4 linked regions of the Homo sapiens genome follow. The protein of the gene in region 1 interacts with the protein of each later gene in a pairwise test. Each region holds a gene or a part of one and is shown on either strand. Other genes may lie near its edges.

Region 1 (5,963 bases):
AGACGAAGAAACTGAGGCCCTTCTAAGTGGTGAAAAGAGATTCAGCCCAGGCAATCTGAATCAAAATCTCACACTTTTACCCACTGCTCCAAAAAACAGAAGTAGAATGCCATTGGATGTCAAATGGATTTTTCCCCACCATTCTGTGACATTCTTTACACCATCCCACTTTCAGGAAGTCAACTTGCTTCGTGAACAGCTTGGCGACCGCCTCAGTGTGGAGCTGGACACTGCCCCCACCCTTGACCTCAACAGGGTCCTGGATGAGATGCGCTGTCAGTGTGAAACGGTGCTTGCCAACAATCGCAGAGAAGCTGAAGAATGGTTGGCTGTTCAGGTCAGTACCCAGATTGAAAAAATGTCAGGCTTACAGACTTCTGCCTTTTTTGAATTCTCTAATGGTGTCTGTGTTTCAGACAGAAGAGCTGAATCAGCAGCAACTGTCCAGCGCGGAGCAGCTGCAGGGCTGCCAGATGGAGATCTTGGAACTGAAACGCACAGCCAGTGCTCTGGAAATTGAGCTCCAAGCACAGCAAAGCCTGGTGCGTGAGGCAAAGGCAGTGTCCGTTGTGTCACTGATAAGTCAGGCCCTGAGATGTTAAGCCCTCTTCCATATCCGAGGATCACATTTCCTTGCCTTTCCCGAGTACTGCCGTTTACCCAGCTATTAATAGAAGCAGAAGTGACAGGTCCACAGCTTGTCCTCTAAGATGCCTTACCTTCACTCCTGGGCTTGAGTCTGATGCTGCAGCAGCCTCCAGAGACAGGGAGGGAGAAGCAGAGCTGGAGAGAAACCTCCGGGCCATGGTCGCTTAAGCATTCTGGCAGGTTTTAATTCTCATTTGATTCAGGCCAGTTTTCCAGGCTCACTGTTATATCTAAAACAAAGAATCATTTTCAAACATTTCATCCTACAGTTTCCCAGGATCTACACTTCAACCTTATCCTTCACTGCACCACCCCCCACTCAAGCAACAGGAACACCATGCGTTCAAGATGACATGAACCAGTTCTGGTCAAGCACCACTGTGTGCATGTCATTAGGCCCTGCGGAGAACACCTAGAAGAACAATAGCTGAGCATTCATCCTGTGAGAGGCACTATGCTGATTTAAGGCTCACAGTAACTTTACCGGATAGATACCTTTATCCCATGACACAGATAAGGAAAACTGAGACTCAGATTAAGTAACTTGCAAAGGATGCAATTCTAAGAGGCAAACTTGGAAGCTGAGTTCAGCCAGTTGAATCCCAGAGTCTCTTCTCTCTCTCTTTTTAAATTTATTTTTATTGATATATAATATGCGTAAATTTTTTTTACGTAGATGTGATATTTTGTTACATGCATAGAATGTGTAATGATCAAGTCAGGATATTTAGAGCATCCATCACCTCAAGTATTTATCATTTCTATGTGTTGGGAGCATTTCAAGTCCTCCCATCTAGCTATTTTGAAATGCACAGTGTATTGTTGTTAACTGTAGTCACACTTCTCTGCTGTCCAACATGAAAACATATTCTTTCTGTCTAACTGTATGTTTGCACCCATTAACCAACCTCTCTTCATCCCCTTACCACACATATGCCAGTCCCAGCCTCTGGTATCCAGAGCCTCTTCTCTTAATAGCACTATACTACCCCTCCCTGCCAAGAGCCCAAACTCAATCTTTCCTCTCATATGTTGTGGATAGTCCTTAAGCTTCACAAATATGTCATGTATTGCTGTAGTCATAGTGGTGGTAGTGATAGTTGACACGTAGAACAGTGGCAGTATGGCTGGCACTGTTCTAAATGCTTTACGCACATTAACTCTTTTTTTTTTTTTTTGGACGGAGTCTCCCTCTGTCGCCCAGGCTGGAGTGCAATGGCATGATCTTGACTTACTGCAAGCTTTGCCTCCCGGGTTCACACCATTCTCCTGAGTAGCTGGGACTACAGGCGTCCACCACCGTACCCAGCTAATTTTTTATATTTTTAGTAGAGACGGGGTTTCACCGTGTTAGCCAGGATGGTCTCGATCTTCTGACCTTGTGATCCGCCCGCCTCGGCCTCCCAAAGTGCTGGGATTACAGGCCTGAGCCACCGCGCCCAGCCCGCATATTAACTCTTAATCTTCACAACCGTCTAATGAAACAGATACTTTGTATTCTCCACTATACAGAGAATAAAACTGAGACTCACAGAAGCTAAATAATTTGCCAGTGGTCACATAGCTAGAAAAGGGTAAGCAGGAATTTGAAAGTAGGCACTCTGGCCCGAGAGACTGCACTTCATGGTCCTTTGGACAATGTTTCCTCCCGCAGACAGAATCTCTGGAATGCACCGTGGCAGAAACCGAGGCCCAGTACAGCTCCCAGCTGGCCCAAATTCAGTGTCTGATCGATAACCTGGAGAACCAGCTGGCCGAGATCCGCTGCGACCTGGAGCGACAGAACCAGGAGTACCAGGTGCTCCTGGACGTGAAGGCCCGGCTGGAGGGTGAGATCAACACGTACTGGGGCCTGCTGGACAGCGAGGACAGCAGGCAAGTTCCACAGTTACTCATGAAATCCCCCAGAGTCACAAAGAGGCTGATGTAAAAGAATCCTGTTTCCCCAAAGTCTGGACAAGTTCAGACCTCCCCAGTGTGTTTAGGGATCTTCTTAAAAAAGTGCTGAAAAGTGGCTGAGGTTAAGAACATGACACTAGAGATATTTTTAAAATATTCTAAAGGCAGATTAATTATTAGTGTAACATTTCATGCTGGCATCTCCCTTTGTTCCTGTTTTCCACTAAAGGAAAATCAGGAATAGGCCTAAGATAACATTTGCAAAATCAAGAAAAAATATAAAATACTATTCAACTGCCACTGCTACAGTGAACATGAAGTGGCAATTCTGGGTGCAGAGAAGAAACAGGCTTCAGTCAATGCTATTGTGCAGAGTTTTTTTCAGAACATAATTTGTAGGGCAAATTTTGACACGGTTTTTCTGAGTTGCCATTTTATCAACATTCCCTTGTTAATCTTGGTTGAAAATCGATTTTTCCCCAGGCTTTCCTGTAGCCCATGTTCGACCACATGCACCTCGAGCAACACTTGTGAGCCATGCTCAGCCTATGTCATCTGCACTGTTGAAAACTGCTGCTTGTGAATGTTAAGGACAGCAGGTAGAGGAATCAAAGCCAGCAGCATCCTAGAAAGGAGATGGGGCTTCAACCAGGGACATCCAAACCGGAAGCACAAATCCAGGAGGCTCTCATATCCTGGAATTGCCCTCCAGGTATCCTCAGTCTTTCTGCTTTACTATTTCCTCTCCTTCCGGCTTATTTGTGGTATACTGGAAGCCCATAAAGCATTCTTGCTCATCTCCAAATAAAACGTGTTTTATTCCTTTAGCGTGGTAAATATAGCTCTATGGCTGATTACTGTTGATAGAATATTCATTTTATGGCAAGGAAATCATCTAAACCCATAACCATAGTTTCAATGTACATAAACCCAGGCTGAAAATATTTTTTAACTCCTCAAATACAAATAAATTAATGAACCCATGAGAAATGTCATATATCTTAGAAAATAGTTGTGTGTATCTTTCTGAGGAAAAATATTAGGAATAAAATATGATAAAATGTATTTTTTGATTATAAAAGTACTAGATTCTCTTTTTTTAAATTTGGCTCATTAAAAGGGAAAAGGTCACTTATGATTTCATCTTCCAAACAGCCATAGTCAATATTTTGGGGTACTTTCTTCCAGTTTTCTTTCTTATAATAGATTTTTCCACACAGCTATAATCATACTAACATATGCACACACTTGTGTAAACTTTCTTTCATTTATGTCATCTAAGCATTTTTAATTCTAATAAAAACATAAGATTGTATTGTAGCCATCACTTTTTTTATTTTTTATTTTTTTTTTGAGACAGAGTCTTGCTGTGTCACCCAGGCTGGAGTGTAGTCACACTATCTGGGCTCACTGCAACCTCTGCCTCCTGGGTTCAAGCGATTCTCCTGCCTCAGCCTCCCAAGTAGCTGGGACTACAGGTGTCTGCCACCACACCAGGCTAATTTTTTTTTTTTTTTAGTAGAGACAGGGTTTCACCGTGTTAGCCAGGATGGTCTCAATCTCTTGACCTTGTGATCCACCAGCTTCAGCCTCCCAAAGTGCTGGGATTACAGGTGTGAGCCACTGCACCCAGCCTGTAGCCATCATTTTACTGGTTGCATAATGTACCATAAGGTACATTGATCTGTTATTGGACATTTAGGTTATAAGAATAATTATTCTCATATATTTAAAAAACAAGGTAGAGAACTTCCAGAATGATGTATATTTCCATATTCCTCCTCCTAAAAACCCTGGAAATTACATATCAAATAAACATAAGAGGACTCTGAAAGGTAGAAGAAGAAGCCAAACCACCTAAAGATGTTGAGACTCCAGGAGTGACACTGTGGTGAGCTCCCTGGATTAGCTTTTTATCTCATATATCCCAGAGGGGGAGCTGGAGAAACCAACAACCAGAAACACCAACAGGTGCAGACAAAACAAACAAACAAACAAACAGAAAGAGCTTGCTCTGCTTAAAGAACCAGAAAAGAGGCAGCCTAGAAAGGCGGAAAACCTTTAGACAATAACCACTCAACTCAGCCAAACACCACAGAAAATATCATTTCACCCACCCATATCCACACAAGGAAAGGCCAGGTGGGGAGTCCAGACTTCTATCCTTCCCAGGCTGTAATAAGGCACTCAAACTTCACCACTGGGGTGGAATCAGGGAAGGCTAAGTGAGAGATCCAGGACTTTCATTCCTACTATGAGACATGGAAGCACTCCCTGTCCCACCATCATGGTATCAGTGGAGACCACACGGGAAGCCTGGACTTAACTCTACAGGCTGCAGTGAGGCTCTTCTTTTCTCCTCTGGGGTTAGTGTCACAAGAGTCCTACTGGACAGTCAGAACTCTTTCCCTCCTCCAGCAGTACCAAGGCCACCCCCATGCAGTGTCAGTGGAAGCTGCATGGGAGCAATAACAAGATATTCCTGCCCCTCCTGGCCAGGGTGGTATCAGCAGAGGCCAGGTAAGGAGTCTAAAATCCTCCCTCCCAGCAGTGATGAGGGGGGCTCTCCCCTTGGGTGTCAATAGGGGCAAAGTGGAGAGAACCTGTATTTCTACTCCCACCTGGTAGGAATGAAGCAGTGTCCCCCTTCCCCTGCCAAAACAGTGTCAGAGGAGACCTGCTAGAACATAAGATTAAACAGTATCCTGAATCTCATAACATAATGCCCCAATGTCCAGGTTTCAATCAACAATTGCTCTTTATACCAAGGATCATAAAATCTCAACTTACAGGAAAAAAGATGATCAACAAATTCAAACATCAAGAGGAAAAAGACGTTAGAATTAACTGACAAGGGTTTTTAACTTTTTATTTGTTATTTTTCTGGGTACATAGATGTATATATTTATGGGGTACATGAGATGATTTGACACAGGCATGCAATGTGTAATAATCACATGGAGAATGGGGTGTCCATCCCCTCAAGCATGTATCTTTGGTGTTACAAACATCCAGTTACACTATTTTACTTATTGACAATGATTTTTAAATAGTCATCATAAAAATGCTTCAGTAAGCAATGCTTCAATAAACTCTTACAACAAATGCAAAAATAGAGAAGACTCAATGAAGAAGATGGAAAGACTCCAGTGGAAATTTCAGAACTGAAACATACCATAGAACCAAAATAGAAACCTCAATGGAGATGGGCTTAACAGCAGAATGCAGGCCAGAGAGGAAAACATCAGGGAATTTGATGATACAATAATAGACATCATCCGACCTGAAAAACGGAAAAAAAATAGTGTTAAAAAGATAGAGTCTCAGGGAATTTTGGGGCTATATCAAACGATCTAACATTCATGTCAGTGGAGTTCTGTAAGGGAGGAGAAAAAGTGAAGCCAAAAACATTTGAA
Region 2 (4,399 bases), on another chromosome or scaffold:
GTGGAAGGCTGCCTGGCCTTGAATCCCAGCTCAGCCACTCAGGGGCTTTGTGACCTGGGGAAGGCTCCTCAACCTCTCGGGGCAGGTCTCAGGTGGAATCTGAAGGGCAACGCCTTCCCGCGGGGCTGTGCTGAGCTGAGACCCTCAAAACAGTGCCAGGTACCTGGGAGGTGCCTCCTGAGTCTGGGCAGGTCCTGCTCATCTTAACCAGGGCTTTTGGCCTTTGCAGGATGTTCACTCCACCAGCTTCCGTCTCCACTGACGCCAGTTGCTGGTTTTGTCCCCTCCATGTGCTTGTGACAGACCCCAGGGTCTGGGGTCCTTCAGAGGCCACGGGCCCCTCTCCTCCCTCGGTCTCGGCAGCCTTCCCAAGGCAGTCCTTGGGTGGGCCCCTGGAGAATGCAGACAGTTCTAATAGAACAGGGTGAGCCTCTGAGAACAGAGCAATACCAGCCCCATGGCATCCCTGGGGCCACGGAGTAGGGTGTCAGGATCCCCCTGCCGCCAAGCACCTGATTCACAGGAAGCTGGGGCCTCATCCAGGCAACCGAGCCCTAATGACAGCTTGGCCCTAGGAGCAAGGCAGACGGAAGGAAGGCTTTCTTGACTGGCAAGCCTGGCTCCCTTGGCACACTCCTCTATGGCCAAGGGGAGCTGGGGGCCAAGAGGGGTTGTCTGGTCCCAAGGCCCAGAAGTTCCTGCAGGCACCCATGGGAAGGATAGCCTGATCCCCACAGGGCCAGGCACCTGCTGGGGCAGCCAGGAGCCCTGTCAGTTGGGGAGGCCTCAGAAGGGTCAAGGGGATCAGCTGTGGGAGCCCAGGTTTCAGAGGCAACCACGTCTGGATAGAAACCCCAGCTCTGCATCCCATGAGCCACAGTGTCTACATCGGGGTAATGGGGACAACAGCCTCTTGCCTTAGGAGGGCACGAGGACTGGCACATGGCATCCTTAGAATAGCAGCCACTGCTGACAAGCATGTTAGTGAACAGGAAGGGCTGGTTGGAGAGAGTGTTGTGGAGTTAGGGGAGGATGTGGGGACAGTGGACAAGCCCCCTGGGAAAGGGTGACAAGTGCTCTGAGCCCACACAGATGTGACATTGCAGATGGTGCAGACCCTTGCTTTATTTGTCTGACTTGTTCACAGTTCAGCCCCCTGCTCAGAAAACCAACGGGCCAGCTAAGGAGAGGAGGAGGCACCTTGAGACTTCCGGAGTCGAGGCTCTCCAGGGTTCCCCAGCCCATCAATCATTTTCTGCACCCCCTGCCTGGGAGGCAGCTCCCTGGGGGGTGGGAATGGGTGACTAGAGGGGATTTCAGTGTGGGACCCAGGGTCTGTTCTTCACAGTAGGAGGTGGAAGGGATGACTAAGTTCTTTATCACAGACCTACAAAAAATGAGATAATTAGATATTACTCTCACTAGTTTGGGCTTCTTTTTTCTTTTTCTTTTTACAAAACAGCAGCTGGAAAGAGAAATGTAGGTGGCAGACGAGCCAGGCACGAGGTTTCAGATTGGAAGGGACCAAGATGAGGACCAAGGTGTGGCTGCCTGACTAGGAACGCTGTGGGCTGGCCCAGGCTCTCGCCACACATCCTGGGAGAACTGCCATAGGCCCTAGAAGGAGGGATGAAAGGCGTATGGGAGGGAAGACAGCGGTCCCCGGATCAGCAGCAGCACCACCATCCTCTGATGGCCCCTGGGCAGTCCGCCAGCTCGGAAGCACTCAGGGCTGGAGCCTGGGCTCTAAGCATGGGCCCCAGGAGCCAGACAGGAGGGAGGCAGCAGGAAGGGCTGGCATGGAAGGGCTGAGTTCTATTGGGGTCCCACGCGGGCAAGGGAACCAGGACTCATCCCTGCTTGTCAGCCAATCAGCTTCTTCAGGAAGGCCTCCAACTGATCCTCATCCTTGATGCCCACAAACTTGTCCACCACGTCCCCATTCTTCATGGCCAGCACAGTGGGCACCGCTGACACCTGGGTGGAGAGGACAAGGGGGTCCAAGTGAATTGGGAGTGAATACTTCTCAACTGCCACTCCTGAGCCTTTGTGGGGAAGGCTGGTGGCTTATCCAGGGCACTGACTTCCCAAAGCCATGGGCAGGCCTAGAGGAACATGGCTCTTCTCTCGGTGCAGGGGTACTGCAGGGCCCGGGGGCCACCCGCTGAAGAAACGTCTTCCATTGCGGGCTCCCAACAGTACCCTTCCTCCCTTAACCACAAGACTGACTCACTGGCCCAGTGGTTTTGCTGGAATGACAGGAGAGATGAAAATAACCCTTGCAGCTGCAGGCCAGGGCTGGGGGCAGGGAGGAGCTCAGGGGAAGCCTGGCCCAGGAGGAGACAGAAGCTGGGGGACAGTTCGAGTCCTGGCTTTGCACTCACTAGCAAGGGGGCCTTGGCCGGGTCACAGCACCTTTCTGAGCCTCAGTGTCCTTTTCCATAAAATGGGGGTAATGTCTACCTTTAGGGTTTGGGATGAACATTAAAGATTCAAGTATAGGCTGGGCACAGTGGCTTATATCTATAATCCCAGCCTTCTGGGAGACTGAGGCTGGAGGATTGCTTGAGTTCAAGAGTTCCAGACCAGCTTGGGCAATATAGTGAGACCCTTTGTTTACTAAACCCCCCCAAAATATTAGCCAGGCATGGTGGTACATGCCTGTACTCCCATACTCGGGAGGCTGAGGCAGGAGGATCGCTTGAGCCTGGGAGACTGAGGCTTCAGTGAGCTGTGATTGTGCCACTGCACTCCAGCCTGGGTGACAGAGACCCTGCCTCAAAAAAAAAGAGAAAGATTTGAGTATAAAGCAGAGCTCAGGCTGGGCGCGGTGGCTCACACCTGTAATCCCAGCATTTTGGGAGGCTGAGGTGGGCAGATCATTTGAGGTCAGGAGTTCGAGACCAGCCTGGCCAACATGGTGAAACCCTGTCTCTACTGAAAATACAAAAATTAGTCGGGCATGGTGGCAGGCACCTGTAATCCCACCTACTTGGGAGGCTGAGGTGAGAGAATTGCTTGAACCTGGGAGGTGGAGGCTGGAGTCAGTGGAGATTGCACCACTGCACTCCAGCCTGGGTGACAGAGTGAGACTCCATCTCATAAATAAATAAATAAATAAATAAATAAATACATAAATAAAGCAGAGCTCAGGTTCTGGCGGACGCAATCCGGCTCCTACCAGCCAGGTGAGCTGGGGCACGCCCCTCAGTCACTAAGCCTCAGTGTTCTCAGATGCAGGATGGAGATACTAAGGGCACTGCCATTAGAGGGCATGAAAGCTGAATGAAATAACGCAAGTAAAGGCTCAGCACAGCGCCCGGCAAATAAGCTTAGGAACCTGGCATTGTGCCTGGCATACTGTGGGCATTCAAAAAACAGTGGCTACAGAGGGCACAAGGAAAAGTCCAACACAGGCCCCACGAGAGCACATTAGCTTGCTGCTGTGATGAGTGACAGGGTCCAGAAACTCAGGGACTTCTACTGGACAGCATGAGAGGAGAGGCTTGGCCATACACAACCTGACGCTTATTAGCAGGTTGCAGGCAGATGGCAAGGACAACATTCTTGGTCTGTGAAGCATTTACTCAGTTCCCTCAGGGACCTGCATAGGTTATGTGGAACGTGGATGAGGCTGTGGCCCACCAGACTGGCATTGTGAGGTCTCTGCTGCCTGGGATCCCTGCCTGGCATTCGTGGGCATTTGAGAAAACCATTTAAACAGAACAAGATAGGCCGGTCGCTGTGGCTCACGCCTGTAATCCTAGCATTTTGGGAAGCCAAAGCGGGCAGATCACTTGAGGTCAGGAGTTCGAGACCAGCCTGACCAACATGGTGAAACCCCGTCTCTACTAAAAATACAAAAATTAGCCGGGCGTGGTGGGGCATGCCTATAGTCCCAGCTACTCGGGAGGCTGAGGCAGGAGAATCGCTTGAACCCGGGAGGCAGAGGTTGCACTGAGCTGAGATTGTGCCATTGCATTCCAGCCTGGGCGACAGAGCAAGACTCTGTTCCCCCCCTCAAAATAAATAAATAAAAATAAACAGAACAAGATAAACACAGACTTTTCTTACATACAAATTAAACTACAAAGTAAGAGCAGAGATTCACACAAACATACCAGGTCTTCACATATCCCAGTGCTGCCCTGCCACGGCCCATCTTGGAAGCCAGTAAGATTCAGAATGTTCAAAAACCATGCACATGGTAGTTAGGAAAGGCACGCAGGCCAGACCATCCCGCCCTCACCCACTAACTTTACGTGGCAGGCCCTGCACCCCACTCCTCACGGACACTTTGGGGACAAACACAGCAGGTCACAGGACACAGTCCTTGTCCTTGTTAGTGCCTCAGGCCCCTTCAAAGGCTGTCCCTGGGCTGATGTGGGTGGCAAACCCT
Region 3 (5,351 bases), on another chromosome or scaffold:
ACATGCATCTTTGCTACAGTGGCTGACTGTACCTTTGGATTGGTCCCCAGAAATTAGTCTGGTGAAACAAAAATACATGGATTAGACATCTAATTCCTTCCTGCCACCAATTCTTAGGTGCCGGGGCTTCCTACTTTCAGATGCTTCAGCAATTTGGGTCTGTTTAGGAGTGCCTGCTGGGCTGGCTGTTTGAGTTCATGTAAGGAGATTGTCCTAATCCGTAGTTATATGGGCACCTCATTAGGCAGTGGACATCTTGCCCCTGACCATAATGTTTGCATTTGAATGAGCCTTGAAGACAGATTGTGTTTTCTAAGCTCTGCTTCCTCCTGAGATCAGCATCCTATTGCTGCTGTCTTTTGAGAGATGAAATGTAGTCACCATACTGCTCCGCTAATTTCTGGACCTTTGGATTTGTTTTTTTTTTCAATAGTCAATTACACATGGGTGCCACAGTCTGTGCTCTGCAGCATATGTTCTGCAAATGGGGAATGACAGTGCTTATCACCACGCAACTCCAGAGGAGTCTGGGCGGAGACACCACAAATGTTCCCTTTAATAGGCACTTTCTCCTTTCTTCCCCCTTCCCTTAATTGGTGTGAATTGAAAAACAGTCAGGCTGAGTTTGTGAGCTGCTTAAGTCTTATTCTGTTGTTAGTTCTCCTTGGAGAAAGTCATTCCTTGTCTCCCTGCACCCCACCAGGTCAGCTTCTGCTTTGGTTTAAAGTCATGGTGGCAGAAACTGAGGCTGGAGAAAGTATGACCGCCAATGTGGACACTTTCCAGAGCCCTCTCCGTTCATCACTCTAGGGCAGTGGTCTGCAACCTTTTCAGCACCAGGGCTGGTTTGGTGGAAGACAATTTTTCCACAGACTGATGGGGAGGTGGGGCGGGGCGGGAGGGATGGTTTCGGGATGAAGCTGTTCCACTTCAGATCATGAGGCATTAATTAGATTCTCATAAGGAGCATACAACCCAGATCCCTCGCGTGTGCAGGTCACAATAGGGTTCCTGCTCCTGTGAGAATCGAATGCCCCTGCTGATCTGACAGGAGGCAGAGCTCAGGCTAATGCTGGATTGCCTGCTGCTCACCTCCTGCTCTGCAGCCCGGTTCCTAACAGGCCACCAACCAGTACCGGTCGGTGGCCTGGGGAGTTGGGGACCCCTGTTCTAGGGCACTCAGTTCCCCTGACTGCACACGGCCCCTTGGATCACAGCCTAAGCTAAGATGATGGTTGGAGACATAGGTGGACAGTATGACGTGCACACTGTCACGGCACAGGGTCTGAATGGGGTAATAGGCATTTGTTTGGTTGAATTAAATGGTGCAATGCCAGGCCTAGAGACACCCTGACTGACATGGTGGGCTGCAGCAGCAGGGCCATCCCAGTGTCAGCTGAACCTTGAGGGTTTGCCTGGAAAGTGGGTTTTTGCTGCTGGCTTCCCTGGCGGTGGCAGTCAGGGAAGGACCCTTCTAAGTAGAACGAATAGCCAATATAAAGAGGAGGAAGCCTCTCTGATGTGTGGGAGGCCAGTGTGGCTGCAGTAGAGTAAGCAAGATGCAAAGCAGTAAGGAATGGATTCTCTGAGAGAGGTCATAGGGAGCAGTGCCTCGTAGGTATTGTGAGGTCCTTGGCTTTTACTCTGAATGGGGGAGGGGGACATTGCAGGATTTGGAGTAGAATTGTAGGACGACCTGTCTTAAGTTTTAAGAGGATTGAACATAGCAGTTTTATGGTGCATTAATCAGGGGGAATTAAATGTGGAAGGAGAGGGACCAGTTAGGCAGCAACAGTGATAACTCAGGCCAAGAGATGGCGGTGGCTTGCAGCAGGAGGGAGCAGTGGAGACAGTGAGATATGCTTAGATTCGGGATGTATGTGTTGTAGGTCAAGCAAATGGGGTTTTCCTCTTGGAATGGATGTGGGTATGAGAAGGAGAGAGGAGCCAGTGGTGACTCCGAGGTTTCTGGTCTGAATAGCTAGAAGAATGAGGGCTGCATCGAGGCCTTCCCTAGTGAAAACCTTGATCTAAGTAGTCATCGACATTGGCATAAATCATGCCATTGCCTTACCTTTTGTACCACGGTACTTTTTTTTTTTTTTTTAATTTTACTGACAGTTCTGGGATACAAGTGCAGAACATGCAGGTTTGTTACGTAGGTATACATGTGCCATGGTGGTTTGCTGCACCTATCTTCCCGTCATCTAGGTTTTAAGCCCCATATGCATTAGCTATTTGTCCTAATGCTCTCCCTTCCTTGCAACTCCCCCACCCCCTGACAGGCCCCAGTGTGTGATGTTTCTCTCCCCGTGGCCATATGTTCTCATTGTTCAACTCCCACTTATGAGTGAGAACAGGCAGTGTTTGGTTTTCTGTTCCTGTGTTAGTTTGCTGAGAATGATGGCTTCCAGCTTTATCCCTGTCCCTGCAAAGGACATGATCTCATTTCTTTTTATGGCTGCATAGTATTCCATGGTATATATGTTGACATTTTCTTTATCCAATCTATCATTGATGGGCATTTGGGTTGGTTCCAAGTGTTTGTTGTTGTAAATAGTGCTGCGATAAACATACGTGTGCATATGTCTTTATAGTAGAATGATTTCTATTCCTTTGGGTATATACCTAGTAATGGGATTGCTGGGCCAAATGGTATTTCTCGTTCTAGATCCTTGAGGAATTGTTTTCCACAATAGTTGAACTAATTTACATTCCCACCAACAGTGTAAAAGTATTCTTATTTCTCCACAGCCTCACCAGCATCTATAGTTTCTTGACTTTTTAGTAATCGCCATTCTGACTGGCATGAGATGGTATCTCATTGTGCATTTCTCAGATGATCAGTGGTGTTGAGCGTTTTTTCATGTTTGTTGGCCACATAAATGTCTTCTTTCTAGAAGTGTCTGTTTATATCCTTTGTCCACATTTTGATGGGGTTGTTTGTTTCTTGTAAATTTGTTTAAGTTTCTTATAGATTCTGGATATTAGCCCTTTGTCAGATGAGTAGATTGCAAAAATTTTCTCCCATTCTGTAGGTTGCCTGTTCACTTTGATGATAGTTTCTTTTGCTGTGCAGAAACTCTTCAGTTTAATTAGATCCCATTTGTTAATTTTGGTTTTTGCTGCAATTGCTTTTGGTGTTTTTGTCATGAAGTCTTTGCCCATGCATATGTCCTGATTGGTATTGCCTAGGTTTTCTTCTAGGGTTTTAAATTTTTATTTATTTATTTTTTTGAGACAGAGTCTCACTCTGTCTCCCTGGCTGGAGTGCAGCGGAGCAATCTCGGCTCACTGCAAGCTCCACCTCCTGGGTTCACGCCATTCTCCTGCCTCAGCCTCCCGAGTAGCTGGGACTACACAGGAGCCCACCACCACGCCCGGCTAATTTTTTGTATTTTTAGTAGAGACGGGGTTTCACCGTGTTAGCCAGGAAGGTCTCGATCTCCTGACCTCATGATCCGCCCATCTCAGCCTCCCAAAGTGCTGGGATTACAGGCATGAGCCACCACGCCCAGCCTCTTCTAGGGTTTTTATGGTTTGGGATTTTACATTTAAGTTTGTAATCCATCTTGAGTTAATTTTCGTGTAAGATATAAGGAAGGGGTCCAGTTTCAGTTTTCCACATATGGCTGGCCAGTTTTCCCAGCACCATTTATTAAATAGGAGATCCTTATTCCATTGCTTCTTTTTGTCAGGTTTGTCGAAGATCAGGTGGTTGTAGATGCGTGGTGTTATTTCTGAGGTCTCTGTTCTGTTCCATTGGTCTATATATCTGTTTGAGTACCAGTCCCATAGCATGGTACATTTACAAAGCCCTTGTGTCATCATGTTTAGCCCTCACAGACACCCTAAGAAAAATAACTTCTGTCTTCATTTTGCAGGTGAGGAAACTGAGGCATAGATCTTTGAGGTCTCTCTGAAAATTCCCTCTATTTTATGGAAGTTGCCCCTTTTCACCTTGTCTTTTAGTTAGGTAACTGCATGTCATCTTCCCCACTAGCTGGTACATTGTTGGAGGGCAGAGCTGTATGGAGGGTTAACTTTGAGTCCATTCAGCATCACTGCAATAGCAGGAACGTGGTAGGTCAGAGAAACTAATCATTATTGTAGCATAGGTCCCATTGAGAATCCTGTGACCGCTAGAAACACACTTCTTCCCATTAAAATATGCACATGTGCAGTTCTGCATTGTAATGTCGCCAAAACTCATTCATGGAAGCCAGTTAAGGTCCCTGGCAAAATGTGCTTATTTTACTCTGTAACTATTTAGTAAACAAATACAATAGGTATAGCCAAAGCATTCTGCCTAAGGTTTGAATTCTTGAAGCCAGGAGCTTGTCAAGAGTCGGAAAACAATTCTTACAGTCTGTTCAGATCAATTAAGTTCAGTAAGCCTGTCCTGAGTGATGGTCCTTAGCTGGGTGTTTGGGCCCAGAGATGAATAAAACAGTTCGGGAAGCTTACAGTCCAGTCATAACCTCTCTTTCTGTATGAGGCAGCAGAGAGCACCATTATTAGTACTAATGTCCCCATTGGACAGGTTGGGGGCAGTGCCCCCTTTGCTTCATGTTACTAGAGCTGCCATCATCCCCTTCATACTTCCTTGCAGCCTCATGTTGAATGATCTGGGCACCTCTGTAGAATGCAAGCTCTATGATGGCAGGGCCATGTCTGTTGTTCTTCTTCAGCACAGAGCAGGTGCTCAGCGGCTGCTGATTGGATGGATGAAGAGGTGGATTCATAGGTGGATGGATAGTTGTTGATTAGATGGATGGGTGGGTAGATGGATGATAGATGGGTGAGTGGATGCATGGATGGGTGGGTGGGTAGATGAGTGGAGGGGGAGGAGGATGGGTAAAGGGTAAGAGTTGGAGGTTTTAAAATTTTCTGGTGGCCTTATAGGATTCAGATGGACTGAGTTGCCCCATCTTGCCTTTATCTTCCCACCTCATCCATTTCCCTGTCAGGAGGCGAGGTCCTGTGAGAGCACAGCACAGCAATAAATAGAGTACTCTTGAACTCGTCTCCAAACAGTGGACTCCTGCAGATGGTCACTCTACCAAGCTCACCAGTTCTCCCTGGGACTCCATTAAGATGGCCCTGCCATTCATCCCTCACACATCAAGCTGGTTTCCCCCCTCTCTTCCCTGCTGTCACACCCTCTCCCCACCTCCTTGGGGGCTCTCAGTCCAGTTCTTCCCCTTGCCAGTCTCTGCCCCTCCCTCTCCCTCCAGTCTCACTTCCTTAGTGGGGCCTCTTTTTCCCTCTGAGAGTCCACAGCTGCTGTGACTTGCAGTTTAGCCTTTCACTTCTGAAGACAGCTCTTTGTTTCTTGTGTGTTTATTTTG
Region 4 (4,802 bases), on another chromosome or scaffold:
CTTTTTGAGACAAGGTCTCACTGTCATCCAGGCTGGAGTGCAGTGGTGCAATCATAGCTCACTGCAGCCTGGTTCTCCTGGGCTCCTGAGTAGCTGGAACTGTAGGCACATGCCACCACGCCTGCCTAATGTTTTAAATTTTTGGTAGAAACAAGGTCTTGCTTTGTTGCCTAGGCTGGTCCAGAACTCCTGAACTCCAGCAGTCCTCCTGCCTTGGCTTCCCAAAGTGTTAGGATTATAGGCGCAAGCCACTGTGCCACTGTGCCTGGCCTTTTTTGACAGTTTTGTAGGGGGGATTTTTGTTGTTTTTGTTTTTTGAGAGTCTTGCTCTGTTGCCCAGGCTGGAGTACAGTGGCACAATCACGGCCCACTGCAACCTCTGCCTCCCAGGTTCAAGCGATTCTGGTGCACCTCAGCCTCCCAAGTAGCTGGAATTACAGGCATGCTCCACCATGCCCAGCTAATTTTTGTATTTTTTAGTAGAGTTGGAGTTTCACCATGTTGGCCAGGTTGGTCTTGAACTCCTGACCTCAAGTGATCTACCCGCCTCAGCCTCCTAAAGGGAGGCTGGGATTACAGGTGTGAGCCACCACACTGCCAGCAGTTTTGAATATGAAAGTATTTACATTTCTGAAAATGTAAAATGTTTTTAGCATTTACTCTTAATTTCTAGTAAGTACATTAATCACTCTGATAAAACTATCCATAATACCTTATTAGCAAATGTTTAATCAGATTATGAGGATGGCCATCTTTTTAAAATACCCACTCTGGGCCGGGTGCGGTGGCTCACACCTGTAATCCCAGTACTTTGGGAGGCCGAGGTGGGCGGATCACGAGGTCAAGAGATCGAGACCATCCTGGCCAACATGGTGAAACCCTGTCTCTACTAAAAATACAAAAATTAGCCGGGCATGGTGACACGCACCTGTAGTCCCAGCTACTCGGGAGGCTGAGGCAGGCGAATCACTTGAACCTGGGAGGTGGAGGTTACAGTGAGCTGAGACCGCACCACTGCACTCCAGCCTGGGTGACAAAGCTAGACTCCATCTCAAAAAAAAAAAAAAAAAAAAAGCCACTTGGGCTGGCTCAGTGGCTCACACCTGTAATCCCAGCACTTTGGGAGGCCGAGGTGGGTGGATTACCTGAGGTCAGGACTTCAAGACCAGCCTGGCCAACCTGGTGAGACCCCGTGTCCACTAAAGATACAGAAAATTAGCCAGGCATGGTGGCGGGCGCCTGTAATCCCAGCTAGTCAGGAGGCTGAGGCAGGAGAATCTCTTGAACCTGGGAGGCAGAGGTTGCAGTGAGCCGAGGTCATGCCATTGCACTCGAGCCTGGGCGATAAGAGTGAAACTCTGCCTCATATATAAATAACCCACTCTGATTTCCTAGGTAATAAGAGTGAAACTCCGTCAAATACATAAATAAAATACCCACTCTGATTTCCTGGACAACCTGTCTTCCCATCTTTTTTTTATTTTTATTAAGATGGGATCTCACTATGTTGCCCCGGCTGGTTTCAAACTCCTGGGTTCAAATGATCCTCCCACTTTGGCTTCCCAGAGTGCTGGGATTATAGGTGTGAGCCACCACGCCCTGCCTCTATCATCTTTTGGTGACTATTGGGCTCTAGTTAGAAATGCATGAAACAAGGCTCAGCTTTAAGCAAGGTAGGTTGTTTCAGTATTTCCTAAAGAAAATCTGATTTGACAAAGGATAGTTTCCAAGTTATAGGTGAACATCTTACCTATTTAAGTAACCTAATGTTACTTAAATTTTTTTTCTCTTTCTTTTTTAAATAGAGACGAGGATTTACCATGTTGGCCAGGCTGGTCTCAAACTCCTGACCTCAGGTGATCCGCCCACCTCAGCCTCCCAGAGTGCTGAGATTACTGGCAGGAGCCACCTCACCCAACCAATTGTTACTTAAATAATTTTTAAATTACTCTGTACTCTTTTTTTCCTTAAGTTAAACATCAAACACAAACTCTTGGACAAGCATGAAACTAGCCAATGTTTGCTAGTACTTTGGCAGAGTATTCAGTTTGTGTAAGGTTAATTTTTTTCCCCCGGATTTGTTACGAGTGAGGGCTGCCTGCTATCAGAACATTCACATTCATTCAGGCCCCCAATCTATCTCAGGGTTGCCTACCAGAAATTATTTAATCCTATAACCAGTAGATTCTATAGTAGGCACAGGGTTAGTAGAAACTACTAGAAAAGAGCATTTGGGATGAGGATTGTGAAAACCTATGTATCCTAGTTTGTGTTGCTTTCAGAATGTTAATTTTGTATTCTCTTCTTCTGTAGGCTTTGACAAATTACAAAAGGCTCGTTTGGATCTGTGACACATCGTTTTGGGGGGAATGCTCCTCTCTTTGTGGGTTTTTCATCTTTTATTTTGGAACTATGAAGACTTAAAAGAGCTCAGACATTTTCTTTTTTTAACTGGTGAAGAGAAAAAGGCTGAAAAGAAGGAATATACCTTTTTTGTTCCACTTGTTTGCACTGTGTGCTGACTGAACATTAGTTGCACTAACTGCTGGTTTTTAAAAAATGTTTTCTGGGGAAAGGGGACAAGGAAGGAAAAGAAAGAAGAGAAGGGGAGAAACCCTAAAAAGAGAAGAATCTTAATGAACACACAAGCTTGTCAATGATTTCAAAATTCTCCAACAGCTGACTCTCGTGCATTTCAACTTCTCCCTGATTCCTCATCCGTTTTTTAAGCCTGAAGAGCTTATTACTTATTTGTGCGAAGTGCCTTATGCTATGAGACCATTCAGAATATCATCTTTTAGACACAGCCCGAGGAATCAACAATAGTAACTCTTTCTTTCCGTTTTTTTTTCTTTTTCTTTTAAAAAATGTCTTCTTATTTTGGTTTCAGGTTGAAGTCTCTTCCCTTTCTACCCAGTACTCGAGCCCAGGGCTAGAAGTTGAAACTCACTAGTAATGTTAAACACCATTTTTTTTTTCTTTTTGGGGAGGAGTTGATATGCAACTGCAGTTCATCCGCACTGTAAATACATGTATTTAAAAAAACAATCCCAAGTAAAAATTTCTTCTGGGCTGAGTAGATAAAAAACATCATCGCTCCCAAAGGAAAGAGCAGTCTATCATTGCAGGAGCCATATGACAAGCCTTTGTGCTCTATAGCAGACACTAAAGACTGGGTTACATATGCCTCCAGTAGTAGTATGGCACTTGATGTGTAGACATGTCAGAGCCTTGGCCCTCTTTCCTCTGTGGCAAAGCGTGTCCCATAGAAAATTGGGTGTGTATACTTGTATAACTTTGTAAATAAGTTTTTTTTCTGGGTTCATATATATATATATATATACATATATATATATTTTTTTTTGGATGAAGGTTGCTGGGATTAAGGGGATTAGAGTGATTATGGGAGCAGCTAAAGATGAGAGGGGCTCAGTTTTACGCAACACTAAATTCTAGAAAGTACTTTGGCCTCGTGCTGTAGAGAGCAGATTTCTATGGTACCCTGTGTTAGTAAAGGGGCCCAGAAATCTGGGATGTACTGTTTGCTGCCACACTGTCTCATCTAGTACCTTTGGAGTAGGTTTACCAGAGAGAGCAAGGAAGCTTCAAAACATTGATAATTCAACATTTATTTTGAGAAGCTCTGATTTTGCTTCTTCCCCCTTTCTAAAAGTTTGAGGAATATTTCAAGCTCTGCAACAGGGGGCAAAGATTAATCTACCTTGCAGTGTAGGAATTCTATTGAGTGGCAGTGTCATTGAGCAGTATATATATAAAGCACAGATTTGCATTTCAGAATATTAGCCAGTACCAGCTTTGGTAATGTTAGCAGTTCTGGAGCTTAATTTTCTGTGGATCATTTCCTGTAGTGTGTAAATGTGTTGCCCTCTGCCCGCTTTGATACATAAACTTTTGCAGGAATGGGCAACCTGAGAGCTGTTAACTTTCATGCTACAGAAAGCTGCTTGCCATTCTCTTGCATTGTGACAAGAATTGTTACCTGTCATTTTGCACTGTAAATTGCTGGCAGATGCTTTACAGTCAATAGTGTTGCTTTAAATTGTGCCCCTCCCAACATGCTTGATGTTTGGCCTGATCTCCAGGCAAAAGGAGTGAGATGAATCAAAACCAGTGAACTTTTTTTTTTAATGTTTTTAATTCCCTTTTAACCCAGTGTACTAGGTCAATCAGGAGGCATCTGGAAAGGGGGGGAAAAAAGCAAAAAACAAAATTAAAAAAAATTGATTTCCATATTTTATTTTTCAAAACCCTAAAATATTACAAAATAAGTCCCGCATATACTTTAATGTTTTAACTCTTTTGGACAAAGGAATCAATTACTTGAAGTTGCTTTTTTGACTCTGCCTACTTCTGAGCAAACTATTTGCGACTCACCCACAATTCCTTGGAGATCAAAATCCTACAGATGCCTCCTGATGGGACATAGCCCTAACTCCTTAACAACTGTAGCAAGAACTGCACGGTACAAACCCAAAAAAGAACAAGCTCATCTATTTGGAACCCAAGCCTCATATTTTCTGTCCAGTCAATGTTGGTTACTAAATAGAAAACCTAATTAAGGAAGTAACTTTTTTCCAGGGAGGGGTGGGAGAGGGAATTTAAAAGGTGTCAACTTTTGACCAAAAAAATTGTGCCCTTGTACCGATGCAGCTCTCTTTCTCCCCCACCTCTTGCGAGATAAGAGGGATCATTCATGTAGAAGAAAAGAGTATAAATGCAATTCTGTATCTCGCTAGAGAACGTGTGGGTGACTAAACAAAAAGTGCAGTCTCCTTCACCAA

The links. Proteins that work in one complex are often made in the same cells at the same time.
Region 2: the proteins of KRT40 (region 1) and TXN2 interact in binary tests that used the Homo sapiens proteins (3 or more experiments, as listed by UniProt).
Region 3: the proteins of KRT40 (region 1) and DOCK2 interact in binary tests that used the Homo sapiens proteins (3 or more experiments, as listed by UniProt).
Region 4: the proteins of KRT40 (region 1) and DDX6 interact in binary tests that used the Homo sapiens proteins (3 or more experiments, as listed by UniProt).

Annotation. Positions count from the first base shown.
Region 1 is NC_000017.11:40,975,364-40,981,326, reverse strand, and holds the end of KRT40 (keratin, type I cytoskeletal 40), read left to right. Parts: exon of another isoform or gene 1-2; coding exon of another isoform or gene 3-26; exon of another isoform or gene 27-175; coding exon 176-337; exon of another isoform or gene 338-416; coding exon 417-542; exon of another isoform or gene 543-2,302; coding exon 2,303-2,523; intron 2,524-3,030; coding exon 3,031-3,130; 3' UTR 3,131-3,612; downstream 3,613-5,963. UniProt on the Homo sapiens protein: May play a role in late hair differentiation.
Region 2 is NC_000022.11:36,465,941-36,470,339, forward strand, and holds the end of TXN2 (thioredoxin, mitochondrial precursor), read right to left. Parts: intron 1,978-4,399; coding exon 1,864-1,977; 3' UTR 1,106-1,863; downstream 1-1,105.
Region 3 is NC_000005.10:169,642,529-169,647,879, forward strand, and holds part of DOCK2 (dedicator of cytokinesis protein 2), read left to right. Parts: intron 1-5,351. UniProt on the Homo sapiens protein: Involved in cytoskeletal rearrangements required for lymphocyte migration in response of chemokines. Activates RAC1 and RAC2, but not CDC42, by functioning as a guanine nucleotide exchange factor (GEF), which exchanges bound GDP for free GTP.
Region 4 is NC_000011.10:118,749,609-118,754,410, reverse strand, and holds part of DDX6 (probable ATP-dependent RNA helicase DDX6), read left to right. Parts: intron 1-2,313; 3' UTR 2,314-4,802.